Linked DNA regions of Homo sapiens: all the other regions are linked to region 1. The links come from fine-mapping of genetic effects on gene expression. A gene starts in region 1. Each other region holds a variant in brackets. All regions are shown on one strand. Distances are between the middles of the regions.

The links. PIP is the estimated chance that this variant, and not a neighbour inherited with it, causes the effect.
Region 2: its variant is fine-mapped to the expression of FAM193B in whole blood (TOPMed, PIP above 0.99).
Region 3: its variant is fine-mapped to the expression of FAM193B in whole blood (TOPMed, PIP above 0.99).

Annotation. Positions count from the first base shown.
Region 1 is chr5:177,550,916-177,557,233 of GRCh38, reverse strand. It overlaps FAM193B (family with sequence similarity 193 member B), which reads left to right and starts at 2,671. Exons shown (of 9, transcript NM_001190946.3): 1 at 2,671-2,985. The coding sequence starts at 2,776. It overlaps FAM193B-DT (FAM193B divergent transcript), which reads right to left and starts at 2,606. Exons shown (of 3, transcript XR_941274.3): 1 at 2,305-2,606. RefSeq lists a cis regulatory region at 1-250, enhancers at 2,413-2,562, 2,583-2,742, 2,469-2,972 and silencers at 2,853-3,062, 3,393-3,502.
Region 2 is chr5:177,522,250-177,529,651 of GRCh38, reverse strand. FAM193B (family with sequence similarity 193 member B) reads left to right here. Exons shown (of 9, transcript NM_001190946.3): 6 at 4,447-5,467; 7 at 5,620-5,695. Among named protein-coding and RNA genes, the nearest start is that of DDX41, 9.0 kb to the right of the region's middle. The variant C/T (reference allele first, on the strand shown) is at 3,521.
Region 3 is chr5:177,417,988-177,425,389 of GRCh38, reverse strand. No RefSeq gene overlaps it. Among named protein-coding and RNA genes, the nearest start is that of GRK6, 5.0 kb to the left of the region's middle. The variant A/G (reference allele first, on the strand shown) is at 3,293.

The sequences.
Region 1 (6,318 bases):
TTGCTGAGCACCCCTGATTTTATGGCTGAGTAGATCAGATAACACTCAGTTCAGGTCACGTGGTCACCTAGTAGGCCAGGATCAGGCATCCAATTTCACCAGACCCCTGAAGCAAGCCAGGAGCTATTTCTAAAATGGAATATAACTATTTGCTGAAGGAAAGCATAAGTTTGCTCCAAAATCCAATGCTTGAGTATTAAGACCAAAGCCAGAACTATTTACTCTGCAGCCTGGTCCACTAAGAAAAGTTTCTCTTTTTGTATGATCCTGCCTTAAAGTTGGCAGCTTTCAAGTGACCCAGTAACTGGTCAAAATAACGTACCTAAGTACAGGCCGGGCGCGGTGGCTCATGCCTGTAATCCCAACACTTTGGGAGGCTGAGGCCGGAGGTTCAGGAGGTCAGGAGTTCGAGACAAGCCTGACCAACATGGTGAAACCCTGTCTCTACTAAAAATACAAAAATTAGCTGAGCATGGTGGTGCGCGCCTGTAACCCCAGCTACTCCGGAGGCCAGCAGGAGAATCACTCAAACCCGGGAGGCAGAGGTTGCAGTGAGCAGAGATCCCGCTACTGCACTCCAGCCTGGGTGGCAGAGATTCCATCTCAAAATAATAATAATAATAATAATAATAATAATAATAATAATAATAATAATAATGTATCGAAATACATCTATGTTACCTACCAAGTCTAAAGAAGCCCCAGCCCAAGTATTGCACCTCTTCCCTAGTAGGGAGTGTGATCTACAGCAGCTTTCCCTTCACTTTGTACGAAATATCTCAACATATCCCAGACTCCTAGATGGCTTACTGCGAGGCCCCTATATATTTGTGAGATTTATTATCCATCCTCTGGCACACACATCATGCCTTACCAAATCATCCAGGATATCTGCTATTCCCTTTTCTTAAGGTCCATCAAGATGATGTCATCAGTGCCTCAGCAGATTAGCCTGATATCCATTAGAATGGAGATTTAGTAAAAAAAATCCCTGTAAACTGGCAGGGTGCAGTGGCTCCGCCTGTAATCCTAGCACTTTGGGAGGCCGAGGCAGGTGCATCACCTGAGGTCAAGAATTCGAGACCAGCCTGGGCAATACGGGGAAACCCCGTCTCTACTAAAAATACAAAAAAATTAGGGGGCGTGGTAGCATGTGCCTCTAATCCCAGCTAATCTGGAGGCTGAGGCACGAGAATCCCTTGAACCCAGGAGGCGGAGGTTGCAGTGAGCTGAAATTGCGCCACTGCACTCCAGCCTGGGAGATAGAGTGAGACTCTGTCATTAAAAAAAAAAAAAAAAAAAATCCCTGTAAACTAAGTGGCTGGGTCCAGAGTGTGACATACCCTGAAGCAAGACAGTGAGGGTTTACCGCTGCCCCTGCCAGATCAATGCAAGGGATTCCTGGTGTTTGGTACAGAAGAATAACCATTGACCAGACCTCTTGTTGCCTATTAGAGACCAACAACTGTGCTGATCTGTCCCAAGAAGGACCGCATCTGGAAGAATGCCTGCAGTTGGGGTTCTTACCAGAATAAGTAAGTTTATCATAATGCTCTGTTGTTCTTCAAGGCCGTCTCTCTTCTGTTCTGGGCAAACTGAAGAGGTAATGGTGATGTGATGGGACTCACCCTGCGTCTTTCAAATCTTTGATAGTGGCATTAATCCCTGGGTGAGATAAGGTACTATTTTTGATTTATTTTCTTGGTAGTTAAGGAGAGCTCCAGGGCCTTCCATGTAGCTCTTCCTTTCAAAATAGCCCTTGCCCCATGGGTTAGGAAGCCAGTGTCAGGATTCCGCCCCTGTTGATACCAATAGCAACTCTGCATATAACCACAATTTCAGAGTACATAGCCCAGGCATGAGACAGACTTCACTCAAAACTTTTTTTTTTTAATCTGTGCCATGTACATGTATTATACAGTATATTCACAAAAAGAGGGGGGAAATTCCATTTTTAACAATTAAATACATAATTATTAAGTTTTAAAAATTCTCCTTTGTGTACCACTCCAAAATCCTCTCCTGCACATACTATTTTTTTGGAAACACCTAGTCGTCTCATCGTTATCACACCGGTTGTAACTATGTACCTACGTGTCTACCTTCCCCATCAGACTCGGGAACAAGGAGTCGGGTTTGAGTCCCACTGTCCCAAGCACAGAACGCTGGACTCCCAGTAGACCATATGTTGCAAATAAAGACCTTCGTCCCTTTCAACTCAGGCCGTCCACGAGCCCAGGAGTTCCAACAAAATGATGTACAGCAACCTTTTCCAGGCCTTTATGTTGCCTCAATATTTCTCACCTGCAAAATGGGAATGATCCGTACCTGCCTCGCTGTGCTGTCGGAAGGAGTCAGACGATGGGTGTGAAAGTATTGTAACACTATAGAAATTAATTCACTCATCCATTTAACAGGCAATTATTAAGTGCTAGGGTGGTGCAGCGCGATTACCACCGCATTACACGCGTTCCTCCAGCAGGTTGCATCCTTCCCGTCCCGCGTAGGGGGGGAAGGGCGTCTCCCCACCAAGTTTTTCTCCCAGCGAACTCCGGGTGGTGACCTTATTCAAAATGGCGCAGGCGGCCTCGGGGGCTAGTGCGGCGGCGCGGACTCCGCGTGCCCTCTGACCTGTTGGCAGCAGGCGGAGGGGGGGAACCGGGCGCCGCCATATTGGCTGTTGTCCTGTGAGGGGAGCGGTAGCGGCGGCGGCGGCGGCGGCGGCGGCGGCGGCGGCGGCGGCGTGTGGAGCGAGGGAGCGGCGCGAGCGGCGGCATGACGCGGAGGCGGAGCAGGCCGAGCGGCGGTGCGGGCAGGCGCGAGCGGGCTCGGGCCGCGGGGCCGCAGAAGCCCCAGGCGCCCGAGCCCCCGCCGCCGCCAAGCCTGGAGGCGGGAGCGGGTGCAGGCCCTCCGGAGGCGCCGGCGGAGCCCGACCACGACGGCCCCAGGGAGGATGACGAACCCAACCTGGTGCCCGGCCCGCAGGTAGGAGCGAGCGGGGAGACTTCGGCGGCTCGGGCGCTTTCACCTTCCCCGAGCGGGAGCGGGAGTGGGGCGGGGTTGGGGATGGGCCATCCTGCCGCGGCTGGGGTAGCAGCCTTCCCCCGGGTCCGGCGCCGAAGCTTTCTCCCCCGGGGCGGGAATGGAGGCTGGACCCCTCTCCCCAAAGCCGAGGCTCGGTCCGCGCTCCTGCGACTAGGCTGAAGCTGCTCCCCTCTCCCCGCCGCCTCCGGGCGTTCCGGCCGTACACCCACACTGGGACTGGGACTGGGACTGGGCTGTGATCCCGAGGCCGCAGCTCCGCTCTCGGCCCGCCACCTCCCCCGGGCCCACCTGCTCCCTCAGCCACAGGCCATCTCGGGGCTCTGGGACTGGACGACTGCAGCCTCTTCCCTCTGCCCCCGGGAACGGCTCCACTCCGTCCCCTGCAGCGCCTGCAGCCGCGGCCCCCTCAGCAGCTGTGTCTCCTGGCGCCTCCTCGCCATACCCAGCAGAGCAGTTGGAGCAGACAGCCAGGCTGCCCGGAGGAGTTTTTGGTGGGGTTTCTGCACTGAGGTGGAAACCCAGCAGAACCTGCCCTTCTTCCCTCCCCTGCTCCGCAAGGCAGCCCACCCCGACCTTGAGATCCCAGGTTTGGAGAATCCTGCTGAGAGCGAACAGTAGGAGGATTCCCCAAAGCTTCCAGCTTGCCACCTGGAAGAAGGTCACTTTCTTTTGAGCAAAGGAGATAACGGGAGGTACCCTGCCAAAGTTCACTGAGAGGCGGGGGTGACATGGGCCACGGTTGCTCTGGGAGGGTTGTGGCACTCGGGGCTGGGTGGCTCTCCCTAAGCTTGCTCTGACAAAAGAGTTTTGAGTTGGTCTTTTGGCTGAGCCTGCCCAGGAAGGCAGGCTCCTGCAGGAGTCTTGGAGGGTCGGATGCGGCGCCGGATGAGGATGAGGCGTGGCGGAAGATGCGTTTGGCTCTGCAGACACTGCATCGGGCAGCAGGGGACTCTGGGAGGCTGGTGCAGCCAGAAGGCATGGCTCTTGACAGCCTTCTAGTAGAATCTCTGGAATTGTGCATGTGAGTGGGGTTGCCGTTTGGGGTACCTTCCCACAAAGCCTCCCCTGACCTCCCCAGTTGCGTCAGGTGCCCTCTCTGTGCCCACAGCCCTCTGTGCCTCCCTCTGGTAGCACTCCCCTTTCTGTGATGAAACATTGTGTTGATATGTCTGTTGCCTGCCCTGGACTGTGAACTCCACAGGGACACAGGCTATGCCATCTTTCTCTGATCTTCCACGCCTCGCCCAGGGCCTTGCTAACACAGAATAAAAATAACTAGGTGAATGAGAGAGAAAATGAATCGGTCCAGAACCCGTGCTTATTGTAACCCAGTTTTCATGCTGATTTCCTTTGTGTCTCAGATCACAATAAGGTTTTTAATTAATGAAAATGTCAGCACTTACTGAGTGTCAGAAGCTCCACCTTCATCCGCATCCCCATCTCCTATCCTAGGCTGACACTTCCGTAGGAGACTCCCCAGGTTGGACCCCCAACCCCTACTGGGTCTAGCTTCCAACCCCAAAGCTGCTTCCCCCACCAGCCTACTCTGGGACCCCCGTGGGAGTGCTGTTATCCAAAAAGGGAGAGTGGGAGAAGGGAGAGCTGGAAAGCTGTTGTCTTCTCTTCTTCCCATTCAGCAGACCATAGAATACTTCAGGGTCTCTGCCACATAGAGATGCCAAAAAGCTTGGATGATGGCTCAACCATTCAGTTTTTATTAAGGACACAACTTTGCCAAGAGCTCTAAGCTTCATCAATTTCTTTGACATCTAGGTTCCTACCATGTTCTTACCTACTCCACTACTTGACCTGCTGATTCATTTATTTGTGCCAGGCACTTTACATACCTTACTTCTAATCTTCCCACCTCACCTGTATTTCTCCGCAGCGTTTAGCACAAATATGATGAATTGACCATTGATGTGATTATTTGTTTTTATTTGTGAACTCTGCGAGTTCAGGAGCCATGTCAGTCACCATTGTACCCCTGTGCCTGGTGGTTAACAAATATTGATCAACAAACTGGAGGATATAATTATCATTACTCCATTTTTCAGATGAAGAAACAGAAACTCAGAGCAACTAAACATTTGCCCAAATGACTCCAACTGTAGGTGTCAGACAAAAGAAAAGAAAAGGACTTTTAGGTACTTTGGGGGATTTTCAACAAGGCATTTTTTTTTAAACTATAGCCCCAAAGAAGGGAAACAAACTGGTAAATTCGGTTCTAGTTATGCCCCACTTTGACCGGGGGTGGGGTCTGGAAGCAGGCTTTTGTGCCCTGGTGCAAAGCACCTAGTGTAAGGGTAGGGTTCAGTCATTGCTCTGCCTACAAGCGTGTTTTTGGTGAGGAACTCTGGCTCCCATTGCCACTCATAACCCTGTCTTACATCTACAGAGTGGATAAGGAAGATGAAACTCAGTGTCATATACCAAACTGAATCCAAAGGTGGCAAATAAGACCACTTCCAGTCCACAGGCTTGTTGTAATGCCCCAGCTCACATATTGTTTTGTTTCTGTTTTTATTTTCATTTGAGCCAATATTTTAAAGATCAAAAGGTTTCCCACACATTTGGATTTGGGGCTCTTTTTTAAACTAAAGATATGGTGATGCTGGGTCCACTTTTCCACAAGGCAGTAATCAGTAGTCTCTGAGTAGCATTTGGCCCTTTTAGACAGCGTATGCTCCTTAGGCATCTTTGGTTCTTTCCAGGCCCCTTCACTCATTGGCATAACCTGTACACATTTAAAGCAGGACCTTGAGTTTAATTGGGATCCCAAATGGCTTTCAATTGTTTCAGGCCACTAAACCACATTGATCTGTTTCCTAACAACCCAAATCCTCGTTTATAGCACAAGAAGGCTGAAACAGTTACTACCTTATTAGCAAAGGAAAACAAAACAAACAAAAAAAAAAATAAAGAACAACTGAAAAAGCAATTGTAGGAGGCAGTGGGGAATAGTGTTTAGAGACTTGGATTGAATTCCCAGCTTAGCCTCCTAGCTTTGTGACTCCGCAAGTTGCTTCTCTCTGACCCCATCAGGAACTTCACAAGAGGCCTTGGTGGCTCACGCCTGTAATCCCGGCACTTTGGGAGGCTGAGGCAGGAGGATCTCTTGAGGCCAGAAGTTTGAGACCAGCATTGGTGACATAGTGAGATCTCTGGTTCTATAAAAAAAAAAAAATCAAAACTTAGCTGGGCATGGGTTCACACCTATAGTCTCAGCTAGTTGGGATGCTGAGGCGGGAGGATTGCTTGAACCCAGGAATT
Region 2 (7,402 bases), 28 kb after region 1:
CCAAGTTCAGTTCAGCTGTTTCCTCCTTCATAGCCATCCTTGGGTAACTTCCACTGTACTCCCAACCTACCTCATATATCTGGAGGCTCTGCTCACTCATCCCACACTGCACAGCTCCTGTCTGGCAGGCCCAGGCAGAACCAGGCAGCCCTGCCTTTCCAGACTTAGTCGTGGGGCTGCAGGCAGGGACAGACACACAGTGGCAGCGTGATGCATCAAGTGATTATGGTCATTATCTCTGTAGACAGCAGCCTCCTCCCTTGTCTCCTTCCACCTCCTGGACTTCACAGTCTGGCTCTCCACCAAAGCCCAGCTGCTCCTTCTCTCCCGCCTCAGGAAATGGAAAGAGCTCAGTGTCTCTCTGCTCCCTTCTCCCACTGCCAGCCCGTGACACTCTCACCTTGTCTTTGTGTCTTCTGTCTACACGAAGGTGAGAGAGTCATGGGCTGACAGTGGGAGAAGGGAGCAGAGAGACACCCTGCTTCTTAAAAACTGCACCCCTGGCTCTGTCATCTGTGACCTCCTGCCACTCCTCCACATCCACTGAAGACTCTCCTGCCCCGTTCTCTTCTTCCCAGGTCAATCCGTTTCTCACTCACTTGAATGGAGTAAGCATTGCTAAGTATTGGTAGGAGGGCAGGCAAATTGACCCATCACTCACTCACTCACTCACCAGTACTCAATTCCTTGTCCCGCTGTCTTTCCTTCAGACCCACTCAGAAACACTGCAGCCCTGGGTTCCACCCCAGCCTGGCTCTCCCTTTCTACAGCTCAAGAAAAGCACATGAGTGAATCTGTGGCAGCCAGCCACGTGGGCTCCCGATTGCCGAGTTCCCGTGTCGCCAGGCGGGCCTCTCATGGTTCCCTGGGCTTCCTGTACCTTAGCACGTCCATTCCCCACAGTCCTTCTGTCAGGCCTCCAGTCTTCTCAAACCGCTAGGCCTTCCGAGCCCACACCTTATTTTTTGGCAAATAGCCTCACTTTTTATTTCAATGAGGAAAAAAGCCATTATACAGGGATTCTCCCACTGTTTTGCCATTCCCACCTGCAAACATACTTTCTTCCTTGTCATGAGAGTCACCCTTTTCCCGCCTAAGGCCTGTGCGGTACTTTCTTGACCCCTCAGCCCAGCAGCAGGCTCCTGGTCTAGCTTAGCCTCTCCTCCATGCTGTTCCCGTCCACATTTCATTGTGTCCACCATTCTCTTTTTTGGAAGCAAACTGCTCCTTGAGCCTGTTACCTCTCTCTCAACCCCTCCCCAGCCTCTTTCCTCTCATCACAGCCACACTTCTTGAAAAATGATGTCTGCATTCACTGTCTTCCCTTCCACCCATTAGCTCATTGCAGGCGGTTTTCTACCCACACCCTCTCCAGAGTCACCGGTGACTTTTTTGTTGCCAAATCCATCCTCCTCTGCTGTTCCTATCGTGTTAGTCCACTAGAGAATATCTGGCATTTGTGTTTGTCCTTTTCACACATTGTCTTTGGGCTCCTCTGTCCTCAGCCAGGCAGGAAAGGGCAAGGGGAGTGCCATGTTCTCCAGATGTCTTGCCTGCCCCTCTGACGTCCTTTCTGTCTCCTTTGTGAGCTCCTCGTCCTCCACTTGACCCTCCTTCATGGGGACATCTCCCTGGGAAAGAGATGCCATCTAGAAACAGCCCAATAGTGTTTCCTCCCCACCCTGTACATCCACGTCTCCAACTGCTACTGGACACCTCCTTGTGGACGTCCCACAGGTATCTCAGACTCTGCACATCCAAAGTTCAGCTTGTTGTCTTTCTCCGAACAGGCCTGCTTTCCCTTCTCTGTTGTCTGTCTAGTCAATGGCACCGCCTCCCACCCTGTTGCCTGAGCCGGAGCACTGGGCGCCCGCCTGGGGAGTGCATCATAGTGACCTGGAATAGCATGCCTGGAACTGGATCTCAGTTTGACACTTGGCTCTGCCACACTTGCTGTATGACATTGGGCAAATCACTTAACCTCTAAGCCTCAGTTTCTTCATCCATAAAATGAGAATAACAGAACCTAAGTCGTAGATTGTTGCAGGGATGAAATGGAGCGATGCATGGAAAGGTTAGGCAGAGTGCCTGGCACATGTGAGTTCTCAGGCAGTGGGGCTGCTGTGGCAGCCATAGTGGCCATCAATGTTTCTCTGACTTTTCTCATTCTGTCTCCCTACCCAGCACCAAAAGCCCTATCCATGCCACATCGCTGATAGCTCAGACCAGTCCACCGCTCTCCACCCTACTGCCACTACCTTAAAAGCCATCAGTGGCTGGACATTGCCCTCGGGCACAAACACTGTAGGGCCTGCAGGGCCCTTCACGATCAGCCCCTGCCAGCTTTATCTCTCAGCCTCTCCTTTCTGACCTTCCTGCCCACCTGCCCCACCCAACCCCCACATCCCCCAAAAAATCTGGGCTACAGCTATACCTCTGAATGATTTGCATTCCCAGAAGATACTGAGCTTTCCCATTTCCAGCCTTTCCACTTGCTATTCCTTCTCTCTAGAAAATGCTTGTCTCACTGCCTCCGGGATGATTCCACTCCCCATTCTGTGCTCAGTGCAGATCCTCCCACCTCCAGGAAGCACTCCCTGGTGAACCAGTCTGTGTTGGGAGCATCTCCTCTAGATTCCCAGATCACCCCGTGCTTTCTTCCATGCAGCACTTGTCACTGTCACTCTGAATTCAACAGGCTGTTTGCTGTTGTCTCCCTCAGCAGACTGAAGTCAGCGAGGCAGAGAATGTCTCACGTACGCTAAACTCACAGGGCCTGGCCTGCTGCCTCACAGCCTCAATGGTCGGTAAATGGTTGTCAGATGGAATTGAGAAACATAGGAACTTCTGAAGATCAGGCCTGGGTGTATTGTCCTGGCTCTGCCACTTCCTAGCCACCTCCTCCTCCTGTTCTTTCCAAAGTCGAGGTTTCTCACCTATAAGCAGAGGGTCATGATGCAGCAAAGACAGTGGCGAGGATTAAAGGAGACATCTATGGGAAGTGCTGACGGTACAGAGCAGAAAGTGTGTGTTTCTGTGCTTTCTCCTCTGGCTTCCAGAGTGTATATGGTTCCATATCATTCCCTCCACACCAGCAGTTGTCAAACTTTTTTTTTTTTAGCAGCCAAACTTTTCTGTGAAATCTGTGTGGTGCTGGGGGAGCGAGGTGAAGGGCCCTTGGTCCTCGTTGGTCCAACCCAGGGCCTCTGAGCCCTACTCACAGCTAGAAATGCTGCTGCAGCTGCTGCAGACCAAGCTGCTCCCTGAGGGCCACGAAGCCCAGCCCCACCTTCGCACATGGGAAAGGACCCCACACAGACTCTCAGCTGTCCTCATACTGACCCTGGAATGTAGAGATGCCTCTTCTTCCTAATTTACAAATAGGAAAAGTAAGGTTCAGAGAGAATAAGTGATTTGTCCAAGGTCCCACAGAACAATTGACTGTAGTCCATTGTGGAGCCAGGGTTCACAAAAGATAAGTGCCTGCTGGGACGCAGGGTCACCCTCTGTACATTGACTC[C/T]GAGGTGGTAGCAAGCCCTGGTTTCTCTCACCAGCTGCCCTTTCATGTTTCTCTTCCTCCATTCCCAAATCAGCTGGAAGTACAGGAGGCAGTGGGAGTCAATGGCGCCAGGCGCACCACAGCAACCTCCTTCCCGAGGGTTTTTTATCTGCCGCCTGTCTCCCTCTAAAGGCATCGTTGGCCTTGAGGTGGGATGGAGAGGTTGGGGTGACTGAGATCCCACAGACTTTCATTTTGATTCCCTAGATCCAGATCTGTCAAAGCCAACTGGCAGGGCCTGGCCTCTCTGAGCCTTCCAGGCCTCACCTGGGCAAAGGAGCAGCTCTCACATCTTGCTGTGTAGGCCAGTGTGTTTGTCCATGGTATGCCATTGGGCACACTCTAGGTGTGACCTTGATTACTTGAGACCAAATGTGCAGCAAGTGGCCTCTCTACGGGAACACCGCCCTCTTTGGTAACACCCAGACATAGCATCAGGAAGGCACATGCCCTCCCAACCAGAGTAATCTCATCTACCCCCACACCTGCCTCCTGTAAGACCCCGTGATGGCATGGCTTTTTCCCCACCACCCGTAGGGGTGGAGAGAATGCCTCTCTAGTAGTGGTCTTCACATGCATCCCCACTTTGGCTTTACTCCGGAATTATTGTCCCCATTTTGCAGATTAGTCCACTGAAACTGAGGCTCTGGGTGAACAAGCTGTAAAAACCCTACCCTCTGTGGGTGTGACTACCCCTGCCCCCAGGACATGTACCTGTCTGGCTGCAGTTTGCCCTCACTCCTGCAGGGTGGGTAAGCAGGCTAGGATTTTAAGGCTTTGCTTCCAGCAAGTTAGTGGCAAAGCTGGGCCCCAGGCTGATGGGTCAGGTATCACATTGTGCCTGGCAGTTGACAGCCTCCTGCTAAAACTGCCTCTTGCCTTGGCAGGAAAAGGAGAAGGCCCAGTTGGCAGCAGAAGCTCTAAAGCAGGCAAATCGTGTTTCTGGAAGCCGGGAGCCAAGGCCTGCCAGGGAGAGGCTCTTGGAGTGGCCCGACCGGGAACTGGATCGGGTCAACAGCTTCCTGAGCAGCCGTCTGCAGGAGATCAAAAACACTGTCAAAGACTCCATCCGTGCCAGCTTCAGTGTGTGTGAGCTCAGCATGGACAGCAATGGCTTCTCTAAGGAGGGGGCTGCTGAGCCTGAGCCTCAGAGTCTACCCCCCTCAAACCTCAGTGGCTCCTCAGAGCAGCAGCCTGACATCAACCTTGACCTGTCCCCTTTGACTTTGGGCTCCCCTCAGAACCACACGTTACAAGCTCCAGGCGAGCCAGCCCCACCATGGGCAGAAATGAGAGGCCCCCACCCACCATGGACAGAGGTGAGGGGGCCCCCTCCCGGTATCGTCCCCGAGAACGGGCTCGTGAGGAGACTCAACACCGTGCCCAACCTATCCCGGGTGATCTGGGTCAAGACACCCAAGCCGGGCTACCCCAGCTCCGAGGAGCCAAGCTCAAAGGAAGTTCCCAGTTGCAAGCAGGAGCTGCCTGAGCCTGTGTCCTCAGGTGGGAAGCCACAGAAGGGCAAGAGGCAGGGCAGTCAGGCCAAGAAGAGCGAGGCAAGCCCAGCCCCCCGGCCCCCAGCCAGCCTAGAGGTTCCCAGTGCCAAGGGCCAGGTCGCTGGCCCCAAGCAGCCAGGCAGGGTCCTAGAGCTTCCCAAAGTAGGCAGCTGTGCTGAGGCTGGAGAGGGGAGCCGGGGGAGCCGGCCAGGACCAGGTTGGGCTGGCAGTCCCAAAACTGAGAAGGAGAAGGGCAGCTCCTGGCGAAACTGGCCAGGCGAGGCCAAGGCACGGCCTCAGGAGCAGGAGTCTGTGCAGCCCTCAGGCCCAGCAAGGCCACAGAGCTTGCCCCAGGGCAAGGGCCGCAGCCGCCGGAGCCGCAACAAGCAGGAGAAGCCAGCCTCCTCCTTGGGTGAGTGCACCAGGAACTGAGCGGCTGACCCCCTACCCCAGCCAGTCCACGGGGTGGAGGGGCAGCCTTTGTGTGTAGACAGCGCTGCCCCCAGAGCATAACCCCAAAGGCCTGGCCATGGGCACTGAGCCCTCCTGGCTGTGTCTTCCTAGACGATGTGTTCCTGCCCAAGGACATGGACGGGGTGGAGATGGATGAGACTGACCGAGAGGTGGAGTACTTTAAGAGGTAGGTGTGGGCTGCCTGCTCTCCCACTTGTGGAGGACTCCAGGTCCTGCCCACACTCAAGCCCTGTGTTGTGCCTCAAGCCTCAGAAAGGCCTGCTCCCTTGGCCCTGACCCCTTGGGGAGGCTCACCGCCCCCCCAGGCCCTCTCCCACCAGCCTGCCTGCTGAAAACCCACGGAGCCACTGGGCAGGATGGCACATCTGGGAAGGTGCAAGAGATAGGAGGAGGCATGTCAGGCCCCAAGAACCAGGGCTTTTTCCAGCTTTATTTGCTTTGTGTCTTCACTTGCACATTCTCTGCTTTGCCTGGGCTGAGGTCAATGAAGCAGTCTAGACCAGGAGTCTGGCCATGAACATGCAGCCTACTGATAAATGGCATAGAGTTGGGGAGGATAGAAGGGGTGGGGGCTGGCCAGGAGGCCTTCCCAGGAGAGGTGGTAACCAAGTTGAAACCTGAAGAGTAAGAATGAGTTGGCCAGATAAGATGAAAAGGTATTCATGCCAAGGGGGCCAGTGAGTACAAAAGATTAGGGTGAAAGAAACACGGCATACAGTCACCCTCCATATCTGCAATCAAAAATATTCAGGAAAAAAAACAAAACACAAAAAATAGCAATACATTACTAAATAATGCAAATTTTTTAAAAATTAGTATTTTTGGCCAAGCGCGGTGGCTCATGCTTCTCATCCTAGCACTTTGGGAGGCCGAGGCGGGTGGATCACCTGAGATCAGGAGTTCAAGACCAGCCTGGCCAAGTTGGTGAAACCCCGTCTCTACTAAAAATAGAAAAATAAGGCAGGTATGGTGGCACGTGCTTATAATCCCAGCTACTCGGGAGGCTGAGGCAGGAGAATCGCTGGAACCTGGGAGGTGGAGGCTGCAGTGAGCTGAGATTGGGCCACAGAACGAGACTCCGTCTCAAAAAAATACGTATTTTTACAGGTGGTGGCTCATGCCTGTAATTTCAGCACTTTGGGAGGCCAAGGCAGGCGGATCACTTGAGGTACTTGAGGTCAGGAGTTCTAGACCAGCCTGGCCAACATGGTGAAACCCTGTCTCTAATAAAAATACAAAAATTAGCCGGGCGTGGTGGCGGGCGCCTGTAATCCCAGCTACTTGGGAAGCTGAGGCAAGAGAATCGCTTGAACCTGGGAGTCAGAGGTTGCAGTAAGCCAAGATTGTGCCATTGCACTTCAGCCTGGGTAACAGAGTAAGACTCTGTCTCAAATAAATAAAAATAAAAATATAATAACTACATAGCATTTACATTGTATTAGGTATTTTAAGTAATCTAGAGATGATTTAAAGTATGTGGGAAGGCCAAGCACAGTGTCTCCCACCTGTAATCCCAGCACTTTGGAAGGCCAAGGTGGGAGGATCACTTGAGCTCAGGAGTTCAAGACCAGCCTGGGCAATATAGTGAGACCCTATCTCTTATTTAAAAAAAAAATAGTAATTTTAAAAAAAAGTATATGGGAAGAGCAGTGCAGGTTTTATGCAAATACTACACCATTTTTATATAAGGGATTTGTGCATCTGCAGAGTTTGGTATCTGGGTAACTAATCCCCAGCAGATTCAGAGGGACGACTGTACTTAAGGGAATGACGGAAGCCAGCCTAGCAGAGCTAGAGAATCAAACACCAGATGAGGAGGAACTGGAATCCCAAGGCAGTTTCACTGTCTTCATACATAGTTCCCTGGGCCCAA
Region 3 (7,402 bases), 130 kb after region 1:
GGAATAGGAGAAGGCGTCCGCAGCTTCTGGGCCCAGTGGTCTGAGATGAGACAGAAGGAGCAAAGGCACTAGCTAGGTCATGGAGGACTGTGAACACGTCCAGGAGGCTGAAGTGTTTTTGCTAAGTGAAATGTGAAACATTTGAAAGAATGATTTATATTTTAAAAATATCACTCTGGTGGATTCCTAGGGGGCCAAGAGTGGAAGCAGAGCAGTCAGGAGTTTACAGAATTCCAGTAAAGAGATGGTGGTGGCCTGGACCTACAAGGTGGCAATAGAGACGGAGAAAAGTGGATGGATCTAGGATCTAGGGAGTTAAGTACCTTAAAAGAGGGAAACCCTCCTGGCTAATGCGGTGAAACCCCGTCTCTACTAAAAATACAAAAAATTAGCCGGGCATGGTGGCGGGCACCTGTAGTCCCAGCTACTTGGGAGGCTGAGGCAGGAGAATGGTGTGAACCTGGGAGGTGGAGCTTGCAGTGGGCCGAGATCGTGCCAATACACTCCAGCCTGGGCAACAGAGTGAGACTCCGTCTCAAAAAAAAAAAAAAAAAAGGGAAACCCAGGGCCCAGTGGAACATAGGGCAGGTACCTCACTTAGTGAAGGCTGTTGTGTCCAAGTGAAATCTGAAGATTCAGTGAAAATGTGCAGGTTACTGGAGTAGGGAGGGAAAGAGCCTTCTGGACAGAGGGGTATCACATGTTCGAAGTTCCGTAGAGGAAGTCAGGAAGGGCTCCTGCGTTCAGCACCTAAGCATCCAGCTGGGGTTTAAAGGTACACAGTGGTACACAATGGGGTCGACATGGGGGCAAGAAATGAGGCTGAAGTCTCAGGAGGGGCCTGGATCAGGGAGGGCCTTGAGAGCCACCTAAGGAATTTTGGACTTCGTCTTGAAGGTGGTAGGGAGCTCTCACGGAGGTTTTGAGTAGGGTGATCAGATTTGCTTTCATAGAGAGCTCTGGGCTGCACTGTGAAGGATAAGCTGAGGGGAGGGGGCTGGCTTGTTGTTGTTTTAGTTCCCAACATCTGAAGCCCTTCCCGTTTGAGAAGAATCCTATGAGATGTGGAGGCAGACCCTGCCTTCAACTCAGGAAATCAAAGAAGGGAGGTAGAATTTTTTCTCCCAGGTCTCTGGTAGCTGGAGCACAATTCCAATGTTTCCAACCAGGTCTTTGAATCTAGAGCATGTGACCGGCACAAGACATCAGGGGGATCATTTAGAATTCACTGTGGAGGCCGTGGAGGTTGGGGGAGGCAAGGAAGGCAGTCAAGCTAGGCCCTTCCTGGGGGAGGGGGATTCAGCAAGCCCCCCAGGCTGCCCCATCCATTCCTCATCTGCTTAGTTACTCAGAATTGGCTTCCTTGTCTGCAAGCCAAGTATCCTAAGACAGGTGAGAGACCTTTTAGAAGGAACTTTTAGAGAGAGGAATGATGGTGCCCTATGCTGGGGCAGTGGCCAGGACATGCAGACAGGTGGACAGATGGAGACCTGGCATGTAGCTGGCATGAACAGGACATGGCAATAGATAAGAGGTGAAGAGGAGATGTCACTCAGGAAATTTCGTTCCAGCTCTTTAAGCCATTTTCCACCTACAGCCAAAGTGATATTTTTAAAAGGGAAAATTGGCTAAGCATGGTGGCTCATGCCTGTAATCCCAGAACTTTGGGAGGCCAAGGCAGGCTGATCACCTGAGCTCAGGAGTTCGAGACCACCCTGGCCAACATGGTGAAACCCCATCTCTACTAAAATATAAAAAATTAGCCGGGCATGGTGGTGCGGGCCTGTAGTCCCAGCTACTCAGGAGGCTGAGGCATGAGAATCGCTTAAGCCCTGGAGGTGGAGGTTGCAGTGAGCCAAGATCATGCCAGTGCATTCCAGCTTGGGCAACAGAGCGAGACTCCATCTCAAAAATAAATAAATAAATAAGAGGGAAAATCTGCCACCAACCATCTGAGATGTGCACATCTAGGAATCTATCTTACAAATATCATTGCACTTAGTCGGGTGCTGTGGCTCACGCCTGTAATCCTAGCACCTTGGGAGGCCGAGGTGGGTGGATCACGAGGGAAGGAGTCTGAGAACAGCCTGGCCAACATGGCAAAACCTATCTCTACTAAAATTTAAAAAAATTCACCAGGTGTGGTGGCGGGTGCCTGTAATCCCAGCTACTTGAGAGGCTGAGGCAGGAGAATCGCTTGAACCTGGGAGACGGAGGTTGCAGTGAACTGAGATCGTGCCATTGCACTCTAGCCTGGGGGACAGAGTAAGACTCTGTCTCAAAAGAAACAAATATCGTTGCACTCAAGCAAAATAAGAAATGCTTAAGGCTGGTGGGGCCTGGTGGCTCACACCTGTAATCCCAATACTTTGGGAGGCAGAGGCGGGAGGATCACTTGAGACCAGGAGTTCAAGACCAGCCTGGCCAACATGGCAAAACCCCATGTCTACTAAAAGTCCAAAACTTAGCCAGGTGCAGAGGTTGCAGTGAGCGGAGATTGTGCCACTGCACTCCAGCGTGGATGACAGAGTGAGACTCTGTCTCAAAAAAAAAAAAAAAAAAAGAAATGTTTAAGGCTATTCATTGCAGCATTGTCCAAAAAGATGGATCATACTAATTGTCCTTAATAGAGACTGATTAAGTAAAATGTCCTTTCCTACCCAGGAATACGATGTAGCTATTTAAAAAAAAAGCGTGGAAGTGCTTGTATACTGATATAAACAATCTCCAAGATATATTGTTAAGTGGAAAAAATCAGGGTGCAGAACAGTGTGTAAGGCTTGCATAAGAAGTGTCTGGGCTGGGCACAGTGGCTCAGCCTGTAATCCCAGCACTTTGGGAGGCCGAGGCGGGCGGATCACCTGAGGTCAAGAGTTCAAGACCAGCCTGGCCAACATGGGGAAAGCCCATCTCTACTAAAAAACACAAAGATTAGCTGGGAATGGTAATCCTAGCTACTCAGGAGGCTGAGGCAGGAGAATTGGTTGAACCCAGGAGGTAGAGGTTGCAGTAAGCAGAGATGTTGCACTCCAGCCTGGGTGACAGAGTGAGACTCTGTCTCAAAAAAAAGGAAGGGTCTGGATAGATTAGGTTCTGCTGCAGTAACAAACAATCCCAAGTTTAAGTGACCTAAAGCAACAAAAGTTCATTTCCTGCATACACCACATGTCTAACACAGCTTGTTGGGTGGTGGGGTGGCACTACACATAGTAGTCACTCAGGGCCCCAGCGTAGTAGGGGCTTCATTGCAGTTTGTGCTTCTACAATGGCAGGTGGTGAAAGGAAATGGGAA[A/G]TTTGGTAAATCATACAATAGTCCTTAAAGCTCGCACCCAAAAGTGACACAAGTCACTTCTGCTCACATTTCATTGGTCAAAGCAAACCACATGGCCACAAGTAGCTTTCAAGGGGTGGGGAGAAGGGCTGGCATGGTGGCTCATGCCTGTAATCCCTGCACTTTGGGAGGCCAAGGCTGGTGGATCACCTGAGGTCAGGAGTTTGAGACCAGACCGGCCAACATGGTGAAAACCTGTCTCTACTAAAAATACAAAAATTAGCCAGGCGTGGTGTTGTGCACCTGTAGTCCCAGCTACTTGGGAGGCTGGGGTGGGAGAATCGCTGGAACTCAGGAGGCAGAGGCTGCAGTGAGCCGAGATCGTTCCACTGCACTCCAGCCTGGGAGATAGAGTGAGACTCTGTCTCAATAAATAAATAAATAAATAAAGGAGTGGGGAGACACAACATTACTATGGCAGATTATATTTTCTAAAGATGAGTGTAACAATGCATTCCCATCCCATGGGCACCTCTGCAATGGAACCTTGCCACCCCCACAGCAAGAGATAGAGTTTAATTTCCCTCCCCTTGAATTTGGTCTGACCTTAATGACTCTCTTGTCATCGGTAGAATATGGTGGAAATGATGCAGAGTGAAGTCTGAGGCCAGGTCAGGAAAGGCCATATGGCCTGGCTGTCATAAAATGCCGGCTCCCCAGAACTGTCCTCTTGGGCTCTTTCCTCACAGTCAGCTGCTGCTGTGAGAAGCCCTAGCCAAATGGAGAGGCCACATGTGTGTGCTCTACTGTGGTTGACAATCCCAGCTGAGCCCAGGACGCTGGGATGATCCAGTCATCCCACCCCCAGCACCAGACATGTGAGTGAAGAAGCCTCCATATGATAATTCTAACCCCTGGCAATTTGAGTCACCCCCAGCCATGCAAGTATCCAGCTGAGGTCCCTGGCATCTTCCCTGCTGAGTCCTGCCTGAATTCCTGACCCACAGAATCCATGAGCATGATAAAACAGGCCACTAAGTTTGGAGTAGTTTATAATGCAGAAGCAGGTACCTGGCATCACTCCTATAGGCCTGGAAGGATAAAAGAATTGGAAATGTTTGGTGAACAACACTAACAACCACCACAGACAGTTTTGCTTATATATATGTTGCCACCTTGGGAAGGCCACGTGAGGCAGCAGAAATGCTGCTTGCATCTGGGAAGGGGTAGTTAAATGGCTGGGGATGGGGGTGGGAGGGAGGTTTTTCACCTCCCTTTTTGCACCTTTAATCTTGCATTGTGTGACTGGATGGCCTGTCTTAAAAACAATCAGCCGGATCCTGTCACTCTTACTCAGAACTCTCCAGTGGCTGCCTGTGGTAGGCAACCTCTAAGGTACCCCTGCCACCACGGATCTCTGCTTCTTCCTGGTCCGTGGATCTCTGCTTCTTCCTGGTCCGTGGATCTCTGCTTCTTCCTGGTCCGTGGATCTCTGCTTCTTCCTGGTCCGTGGATCTCTGCTTCTTCCTGGTCCGTGGATCTCTGCTTCTTCCTGGTATTCACAGCCTTAAGATCCCCTTAAGTGTCAGGTGGACCTCCTGACTCACTTTTTTTTTTTTTGAGATGGAGTTTTGCTCTCCTTACCCAGGCTGGGGTGCAATGGCATGATCTCAGCTCACTGCAACCTCCACCTCCTGGGTTCATGCAATTCTCCTGCCTCAGCCTCCCGGGTAGCTGGAATTAAAGGCACTCACCACCACGCCTGGCTAATTTTTTGTATTTTTAGTAGAGACGGGGTTTCACCATGTGGCCAGGCTGGTCTCAAACTCCTGATCCGCCCGTCTCGGTCTCCCAAAGTGCTGGGATTACAGGTGTGAGCCACTACACCCGGCATTTTTTCTTTTTCTTTTTTTCTTTTTTTTTGTTTTTGAGATGGAGTCTCGCTCTGTGGAAGTCTCGCTCTGTTGCCAGGCTGGAGTACGGTGGCTTGATCTCCACTCACTGCAACCTCTGCCTCCCAGGTTCAAGCAATTCTCCTGCCTCAGCCTCCCGAGTAGCTGGGACTACAGGCGCGTGCCACTACGCCCAGTTAATTTTTGTAGAGATGGGGTTTCACCATGTTGGCCAGGCTGGTTTTGAACTCCTGACCTCAAGTGATCTGCCCATCTCTGCCTCCCAAAGTGCTGGGATTACAGGCGTGAGCCACCAGGCCTGGCCTGCCCCCGGCCTTTTCTTTTTTTCAGAGTCTCGCTCTGTCGCCCAGGCTGGAGTGCAGTGGTGCAATCTCGGCTCACTGCAAACTCCGCCTCCCGGGTTTAAGCAATTCTCCTGCCTCAGCCTCCGGAGTAGCTGGGATTACAGGCGCTGCCCACTACGCCTGGTTAATTTTTGTATTTTTAGTATAGATGAGGTTTCACCATGTTAGCCAGGCTGGTTTCAAACTCCTGACCTTGGGTGATCTGCCTGCTTCGGCTTCCCAAAGTGCTGGGATTTCAGGCGTGAGCCACTGGGCCGGGCCACGTTTTTTTTCCCTAAGAGACAGGGTCTTGCTCTGTCACTCAGGCTCGATCACAGCTTACTGCAGCCTCCACCTCCTGGGCCCAATCGATCAGCCTACATCAGCCTCCCGAGTAGCTGGGACTACATGCGCATGCCACCATACCCAACTAATTAATTTTTTTGTAGAGATAGGGTCTCCCTCTGTTGCCCAGGCTGGTCTCAAACTCCTGGCTCAAGCAATCCTCCCTCCCTGGCCTCCTAAAGTCTTGGGATTACAGGCATGAGCCATGGCACCCAGCTTGACTCACTTCCAATGGAAGGAATGCAGCCAAAGTGATGGAATGTCATTTCCAACATGAGATTACTAAAAGATTGTGGCTACCATCTTACGTAACTCCTCTTGCTCCCTCACTGGCTCAGTCTGAGAGAAACCACCTGTTAGGTTGTGAGATGGAGAGACCCTATGTGGCAGGCAACTGATGTCTCTAGCCAACAGCTTTGTAAGTGAACTTGGAAGTGGATCCTTCCCCCGGCAGCCTCAGCTGACCCTCCGATGCAGCCTTGTGAGAGATGCTGATCCAGTGGCACTCAGTTAAAAAGTGCCGGGTTCCTGACCCATAGAAACTGTGACCCATAAATATCTTTTTTAAAAAGAGTTTATGGCCGGGAGTGGTGGCTCACACCTGTAATCCCAGCACTTTGGGACGCCAAGGTGGGTGGATCACCTGAGGTCAGGAGTTCAAGACCAGCCTGACCAATATAGAGAAACCCCATCTCTACTAAAAATACAAAATTAGCCAGGCGTGGTGGCACATGCCTGTAATCCCAGCGACTCAGGAGGCTGAGGCGGGAGAATTGCTTGAACCCGGGAGGCAGAGGTTGCGGTGAGCCGAGATCGTGCCATTGCACTCCAGCCTGGGCAACAAGAGAGAAACTCTGTCTCAAAAAAATAAAATAAAAGCTTAATTGGCCAGGAGCAGTGGCTCACGCCTGTAATCCCAGCACTTTGGAAGGCCAAGGCAGGCCAATCATGAGGTCAGGAGTTCGAGACTAGCCTCGCCAACATAGTGAAACCCCATCTCTACTAAAAATATAAAAATTAGCCAGGTGTTGTGGTGGGCACTTGTAGTCCCAACTACTTGGGAGGCTGAGGCAGGAGAATCCCTTGAACCTAGGAGGCAGAGGTTGCAGTGAGCCAAAATCGTGTCACTATACACTCCAGCCTAGGCAACAGAGCGAGACTCTGTCTCAAAAAAAAAAAAAAAAAAAGAGTTTAATTGATGTGAGGCTGGCCCACGTGAGAGAACTGGAGTTATCATTGAAATCAGTCTCCATAAATGTCATTTTAAGCTGCTAAATTTTGGGACAATTTGTTATGCAGCCATAGATAATTAATACACTTCTCATTACACTTAAAAAATAAAACCTCCTTGAGGCTGCAGTGAGCCATGATCATACCATTGCACTCCAGCCTGGGTAACAGAGCAAGAACTGTCTCCAAAAAAATAAATAAATAAATAAATAATAATTTAAAAAAACCTCCTGTAGTCCCAGCTACTTGGGAGGATGAGGTGGGAGGCTCACTTGATCCTAGGATTTCAAGGCCAGCCTGGGCAACAACATAGTGAGACT